Homo sapiens: one gene and its partner. The protein of the gene in region 1 interacts with the protein of each later gene in a pairwise test. Each region holds a gene or a part of one and is shown in the gene's direction. Other genes may lie near its edges.

The links.
Region 2: the proteins of AGR3 (region 1) and ASB10 interact in a two-hybrid assay, tested with the Homo sapiens proteins (one large-scale study listed by BioGRID and IntAct).

Annotation. Positions count from the first base shown.
Region 1 is NC_000007.14:16,875,455-16,879,277, reverse strand, and holds part of AGR3 (anterior gradient protein 3 precursor), read left to right. Parts: intron 1-632; 5' UTR 633-659; coding exon 660-768; intron 769-3,823. UniProt on the Homo sapiens protein: Required for calcium-mediated regulation of ciliary beat frequency and mucociliary clearance in the airway. Might be involved in the regulation of intracellular calcium in tracheal epithelial cells.
Region 2 is NC_000007.14:151,176,979-151,180,801, reverse strand, and holds part of ASB10 (ankyrin repeat and SOCS box protein 10), read left to right. Parts: intron 1-3,823. UniProt on the Homo sapiens protein: May be a substrate-recognition component of a SCF-like ECS (Elongin-Cullin-SOCS-box protein) E3 ubiquitin-protein ligase complex which mediates the ubiquitination and subsequent proteasomal degradation of target proteins.

The DNA of each region.
Region 1 (3,823 bases):
ATAGTAATATGATAGTACTTGATTTTTATAAAGAGCTGTATCATAAACTGAAGGGCAAAAGTCTGAGTAATTGTTGGAAGGATGAGAAAGGTAAGAAACTATAAAGGAACTGAAGGACAAGAATCCTCCATATTCTATTTTTCCTCTGATTTCTATTTTAAGCAATATTTATTCATGTATAATCTTATCTTAGTATAGAGTTAAAATATTTTGACCTATTAGATGAAGGAGAATCAAAAGGCAAAGAATATTTCTGCATGCTAAAAGTCACTTCATAGTTTACAAGACATCAAACAACATGATCTTATTTGAGTTTCGTCTTGTTGGTGTGAACACTACAGGGCGGTTCAGAAGCAGGCTTCGTGTGCCCTGATCCAGCTCTTTTTTAATTATACAGCACCATGCCCAGGAGGCTCAGAACATGACTTCTCACCAACTGAGCATGTACTGAGTTGATTAAGTATTTTAAAAATAAAATGTGAATGAAAGTTCTATGTGGTTGGTTATACCATGTCAAACCAAAAAAGCTGAACAGTCTGTCATCACAGTATTGGTCCAACTCTTAGCAAATATCTTCTAATAATAGCTTGAAGTAATTCACTGGATTCTGAGAATTCCTTTCTGTCATCTAGCTTCTTCTGAGAGAGTCTCTAGAAGACATGATGCTACACTCAGCTTTGGGTCTCTGCCTCTTACTCGTCACAGTTTCTTCCAACCTTGCCATTGCAATAAAAAAGGAAAAGAGGCCTCCTCAGACACTCTCAAGAGGTGCTGTAATCTCATTTTATTTTCTAAACTCAGTCATTTGGATTGCTTTTTAAAATATCTGGTGTCTTCACTCATAGTCTAATTATAAAGCAAATTCAACTAACTGAATGATTTTTGTTGTGTGTGACTTCAAAATGGATTTTTTAAAACAGAAGGAATCAGTTTATTTTAGGCAGTGAATCAAATCAACTAGCAAACAATAACATAAATTTGCATTATCTTTTGCCAAAATAATGGAGAATTGGCTCGCTGTCTATAACTTTGGTAACCAGAGTCCTAGAAAATAATGATTGATTGCTGCGTCATATTGGTGTCCTAATAGCAATTTAAGATTCCTCAAAATTTGCTCAAATTCCCAGTCCTCTATTTCCCAGTCCTCCAAAAAAAAAAAAATTGGAATAATTTTATATAAGCCTTCCCAGAAAATTATACTATACCCCAAACTCTGAGAATTCGGGGTAACTAAGTCTTTGCTATATTGACTCTGGAAGACAGTGGTTTTAGACATAATCAAGGATTGCCGGTGGCTACATGTTTAGAAACATTTCTTTTTGTACTTACTGTTTTACTTGGCCCAAGAAACAAATATATATTCATCTGTAAAGAAACATTTTATTAAAAAAAATTCTCTCTTTTTTTTTTTTTTTGAGACGGAGTCTTGCTCTGTCACCCAGGCTGGAGTGTAGTGGCACGATCTTGGCTCACTGCAAGCTCTGCCTCCCGGGTTCACGCCATTCTCCTGCCTCAGCCTCCCAAGTAGCTGGGACTACAGGCGCCCGCCACCATGCCCGGCTAATTTTTTGTAGTTTTAGTAGAGACGGGGTTTCACCGTGTTAGCCAGGATGGTCTCGATCTCCTGACCTTGTGATCCGCCCGCCTCGGCCTCCCAAAGTGCTGGGATTACAGGCGTGAGCCACCGCGCCCGGCCAAGAAAATATTCTCAAAGTTAGTTTCTATATCTCTAAGTAACAGAAGTAGGAACAGAATTATTTGTCCCCATATAGCTATTCAAAATCAGCAGTATTACCACAAAGTACTTGACCATTTGTTTGCTCCATTCATATTACCACTGCAAATAGTAGTCAAGTGCCTTGGAGTAATACTGCTAGTTTTGAATAACCAAGTGGGAACAAATAATTCTGTTCCTACCTCTGATATATATATAAAATATATATAATTATAACATACAAATTATATATTATATATACTATATATTATATATAATATATATCATAGTATACATTTGTGTTATATTATAATAAATTATATATAAATATATGCTATAATTATAAATATATATTATATAATTTCAAATTCTAAAACACTGACTTGCTTCCCAAGTACATTCATTTCTTAACAGATGTATTGAGTGCCAGCCAAGTGCTCATCAATGTTTACCTAAGCTAATTAACTCTACTTCAGTTTAACAAACACACAATCTATATATACAGAAAGTCAACATATTTTTGCAAAAGAAAGGAATGAAAAAGTTGAAATATTTTCCTAAACATAACTCTATCTCTCTGTATAAGCATAACTGTTGTAAAACAATGAGCTCAGTAGCCCTAAAGTGACAAAGACTAAACTAGTTATTGCCCTTAAAGATTTTCCATGTCTGCATTAAGCAGCACTGTGATAACTATACGTCAAGGCATCAACATTCTGTGTGCTCACTTCTAAATATTTATTTAAAACTCTTGTTGAATGTTTTGAAAAAATATATTACATTTGTATGCCCTATTTTAAACAACTTAAAGGTTCTATTATTTCAATTGATAAGAAACTAATTTAACACAGAAGATGACTGATATTAGCTGAGAACACCATTATTGAGAATTGGTTTATATTTGGCAAAGTCTTTTACCATCTATTGCTACATGGGAGATAATGGAGAGAATGAGGCTCAGAATGAATGAAGATTAAAGGTAGGGGTGAGTGGGAGAAGTCTGGATACAGTATAAAGAGTGGCATATGGAGCCCCTTAGAGCACAGGGCAGCACTAGTTAAGTAGAGAAGGCAGTAAGGAGAAAAGGAAGATTAATTAGAAAAAGGTAGAAGAAGGTTCAGGGAGAAAAAAATACACACACATAGAATGATCCAAAAAAAATCCAATTTCCTTTGAATCAGAATTGCTGAGTACCTAGTCCAGTGATTGGCGGATAGTAAATATTTAATAAATATATGTTAGATAAATGAATAAAATCTCAAAAGACAAGAAAATATAGCCAGAGATAGAGATAGGGCTAGAATTAGAGTAATGAGCAGAAGCCATGAAGTGCATTTAAACTGTGTAACAGCTTTGACCTATTGTGATTATAACAGAGTAAATAAAAAATCATTATAATGCAATATGGCTTTTCTACAGAGCTATGGACAATTTGTTGAGAATAGGGATTATATTGCTCTATGTTTGTATTCCCACTGCTTTGTGGAGTAAGTTATGCAGCAGATGTTCCTTTACTGTTTGTGGAACTAAATTGAGCAGGAGCAGAGAATAGAAATTTTCCCCACTGCTAATGCTCCATCATTGAATGATATTTGCAACAGAAGAGGGAAAATTCAGCAGAGGCCTCGTCTCACTTGCTGTTTTAGAATAACTTTTACTTAATGCAAAATGTGATGTATAGATATTGCATGTGTTCAACCAAAGTTGGAAAGAGAATCTTTCAGGATTATTACAGAGAGCAAGAGTTCCTGTTAAGATGTGGCATTAAACTAACAAGAGATGTTTTTCAATGTTAAGATTTTAAATCAGGCAAAAAAAAACAAAAAACAAAAATGTTGCTGGTGAGTATATAAAATGATGCATCTACTTTAGAAAATAACCCGGCAGCTCCTCAAAAAGCTAAATACAGAGTGACCATTTGATCAGCAGTTCCACTCCTAGGTATATACCCAAGATAAATGAAAATATATACCACTGAAAAACTTGTATATGTATGTTCATAGCATCATTATTCATAAAAGACAAAAAGTGGAAACAACCCAAATATCATTAACTGATGAACAGATAAATAAAATATGGTATATTCATACAATGGAATAATATTTGACC
Region 2 (3,823 bases), about 130 Mb from region 1:
GCAAAGCCCAAATAGGGGTCAAGGTGAAGACACAGATCAGTGGGAAATGTGTGTGTGTGCATGTGTGTGTGCATGTGTATACATGGTGTGCGTGTGTATACATGTGTTCATGCATGTATGTGCATGTATATACTGTGCATGTGTGATAAAGGCGGACTGGGGGCAGTGGGGCCAGATTAGATAAAGGATCCAAAAAGACAGAAGAAGTCAGGGCTGATGTGGGTGGTGGGCGTTGTTTAAGGGTCTTCATCAGCACAGCAAACTGATGAAAATAGCACTTGAGGAAGCTCCCACTAGCAGTGGGATCAGTTCAGTGACAGATGCAGGAGAGGCTGTCCAAGGGAAGAGGGTGAGCCTGTTTCAGGAGGCTCAAGGTCCCCTGAATGTCTGTAAATGGACATGGTCCCACTTTCTGAGAATCTAATAGGACCCACAGCCCCCAGAACAGCTGCCACTGTCCTGGCACCTGTGAACATGCCTTTCACTGTCAATTTCAATTTATATCCTACTTTATCTTAATTTCCCCTAAGTAGGTTCAACTTGAAGACCTGTGCTACTGATGCCCTGTGAGGGGGCCTTGCCCCATGCTGTGTCGTGTCTGGAGGGGCATAGATAATGTCATGGAGGGCGCTGGGTCTGGGATGGGGACATCCGTTCTCAGAGGAGATGGCTCAGAACCGAAACCACCCTCTGAGTAGGCAGTTCCCCTCTGGCTCAGCCCAGAGTGTTGTCCCACCCAGCCTTGCCTGTCCTGGGACCACCCCTGCTATCCCAGCCTCTCCCCTTTGCTCACAAACCTAGAAGCATCTGTCTGGATTCCTAAGCAAGACCAAATAATTAAACAGCCCAAGAGTTCGGCAGATTGGTCTCCCCTTTGGGAAAATACAAGAAAATCAACAATTAACACTAATTAATCTCCTATTAACACTAGATAATTAGGAGACAAGCAATTCCCTGTAATCTGACGGCAGCTCTGACAGCTAATGATTTCCCTGGCAGGCAGGGGCGGGAGGAGGGCCCGGCGCAGCGAAAGGGTTTCCTGGGTCCCCACAGCCCTGCTCCACCTCTCAGCCTGTCTCTGGGACCAAAGGGGCTGGCAGAGCAAAGTACCCCATTTGTCCCTTTCCATGATCTGCAGCCCTGCCAGCTGAGGGGTTTCTGTCCTCCCTGCACAGAAGCCTCCACCGCCCATCTGTGATGAAATGCCAGCCCCAGCTGGTTCTCTAGGAGCCACCACTTTAGACTTGGTGCTCAGGGGACCTGGATCCAGGATGTGACTTTGATGCTTGTTCGTATGGGTGTAGGCAAGTCACTGCATGTGATACAGCCTCTCCCTAACAGGATGGAAAGCTGTAGGAGAGCACTGGGGAACAGTCGGAGCAAGCACAGCCTTGACTACACACCAGGCACTGCTCTAAGCTGTATTTCCTGTTACAGGAGTTCCTCAGTCCTCCCAGCAACTTCTGAGTTCAGTGGTGACTAGGAGTGTAGGCTCTGGAGCCAGACACACTACCTGTGTGGCCTTCGGCAAGTCGCTGAATCTCCCTAGGCCTCAGTTTTGTCATCTGTAACATAGGGATATGATACTATGCCTTCTTCATAGGGTTACTGTGAGAAGAGTTAATACACATCAAGCCTAGTGCTTAACACTTGTTAGCTAGTGTTGTTCTTGTTATGTAATGTATGAGAAAGCACTTGGTAAGCTGCTTGGCATCATCCCAATGAGGGTATCATTGGACATGGGAGTGAAGCAGGTTGATGTAGCTGCATGGGCTTCCTGGAGGAGGCAGGACTGGGATGGGCAGTTTTGAAGGGAAGGAGGAGGAAGAGGCAGGCATTCCAGACACAGCGAGCTACTTGAGCCCAGTGCAGAGGTGGGGATCAACATGGGCCAGGAAGGACAGAGACGGGCCTGAGGGGCAGGTGGAGAGGAGAGTTGGAGAGAACCAGCCTGCTCTTCCCTAGCTTGGAGGAGGAGTGAGGAAAAGAGGCCTCCCGGGACAGACTGATGAGCACTGCTCAGATGCAGGGCTAGAAGCAGAGGCCCCAGGTGTGTAAAATGCTTTCTCCAGGGACCCCTGGAAGGCCAGGCCTTCTGCTCCCACTGCTCATTGGTACTCTCGTCTGACAGACAGAAGGGTCTCCTCTCCTTGCAGACAGAGTCTGTTAAACCCCCACCGCTAGATGCAATTGTGTTTGGCCACATGTGGGTTGTGTGTGAGATGCTGCCTGAAAGACAATACTTAGCTGTTTTCAGATCTCAAAAGGCTCTGTGGCCATCGCCTGCATAGATGCAGCGAGAGTGGAGTGCAGTGGAGGAGGCACAAATCTGCTTTAGGTACTGAGTTCAGGCACAAGCGGGTGTCTTAGTGCCAGTGTCTGTCAGGCCACTTTTCTGACCACGTGGACGGTCTGTCCACAGGCTGCTCCACTGCGTGGCTTGCCCGCTTGCTGCACTGGACCACCACCTCAGAGACCTTTCTTGGCCACTCCGTCTAGGACAGTGCCCTCCCCAACCATGCTCAGTCCCCTGACCCTACTTTTTTTTTTCTCTTTTGAGACAGGGTCTCATTCTGTCGCCCACACGTGCCGTGGCACGATCCCGGCTCACTGCAACCTCTGCCTCCCAGGCTCAAGAGATTCTCTTGCCTTAGCCTCCCAAATAGCTGGGATTAAAGGTGCATGCCACTACCGCCCGGCTAATTTTTGTATTTTTAGTAGAGACAGGGTTTCACCATGTTGGCCAGGCTGGTCTCAAACTGCTGACCTCAAGTGATCCACCCACCTCGGCCTCCCAAAGCGCTGGGATTACAGGCATGAGCCGCCACGCCCGGCTCCTTCTTATTTTTCATTGCAGCAGCAGATCTGTGAGTGATGACTTCTGTGTTTATTATGTTTTCCCTCTGAAATAGAAGCTCTTGGATGACGAGGACTTTATTTTCCCCACTGCTGGATTCGAAGTGCTTGGCACATAGTAGGCCCTCAATAAATAGTTGCTGAATGAACCAATGAAAGCATATATCTGGCTCCAACTAGGTTCCACCCCTGCTCCTACCAAATCCTCTCCTGCTCCTGCAGGCAGTCCATCAGCCTCAGGTTGCCTTGTCCCTTCTCCCTGAATACCCTCCAGGCTCTGGGGTTCCCTTGCCTCCAGAGCCCAGTCCTCCCTCTGTGAGTCCCCCACCCAGCCCCACCCCACTCCCTGGCCCCCTCTTGTAGCTGTCTCTACCCTCACTTGGCATTGGATGGATTCTGTGATCTTTTTATCTGCTCAGGAGCTCCAGCCACAGGTCAGGGACCCCTTCCAGCCAGCAGAAAACCCAGCCCAGAACCTTGTAGAGGCAGAGAGGAGAGCAGGATGGTGGTGTGGTTAAGGGCAAGGGGTCACGCTTCCAGGCCTGGACTGTGGGAACCACAACTTGGGCAAGTTAATTAACTTCTCTGTACCTCAGTTTCCCTTGGCTGTAATGAAGGAAATGGGATAATAACATGGGATATTAACAGTCCATCCCTTGCAGGGACAACAGTGAAGAGTTCATACATGTCAAGTGCTAGAAATCATCTGGCCTGAGTTATGCACAATAGAAAGGTTAGCTGCTGTATTGGCTTCCTGGATCAAATGAAGTACCACAAAGTGGGTAGCTTAAAGCAACAGAAATGGAGTTCCCTTACAGCAGTGGAGGCTGGAAGTTTGAAATGCATATGTGGGCAGGGCTGGCTCCTTCTGGAGCTTCTGAGGGAGAATCTGTTCCATGGTGCTCTTGTAGCTTCCAGTGGTTTCCCACAATCCTTGGTGTCCTTTGACTTGTACATGTGTCACTCC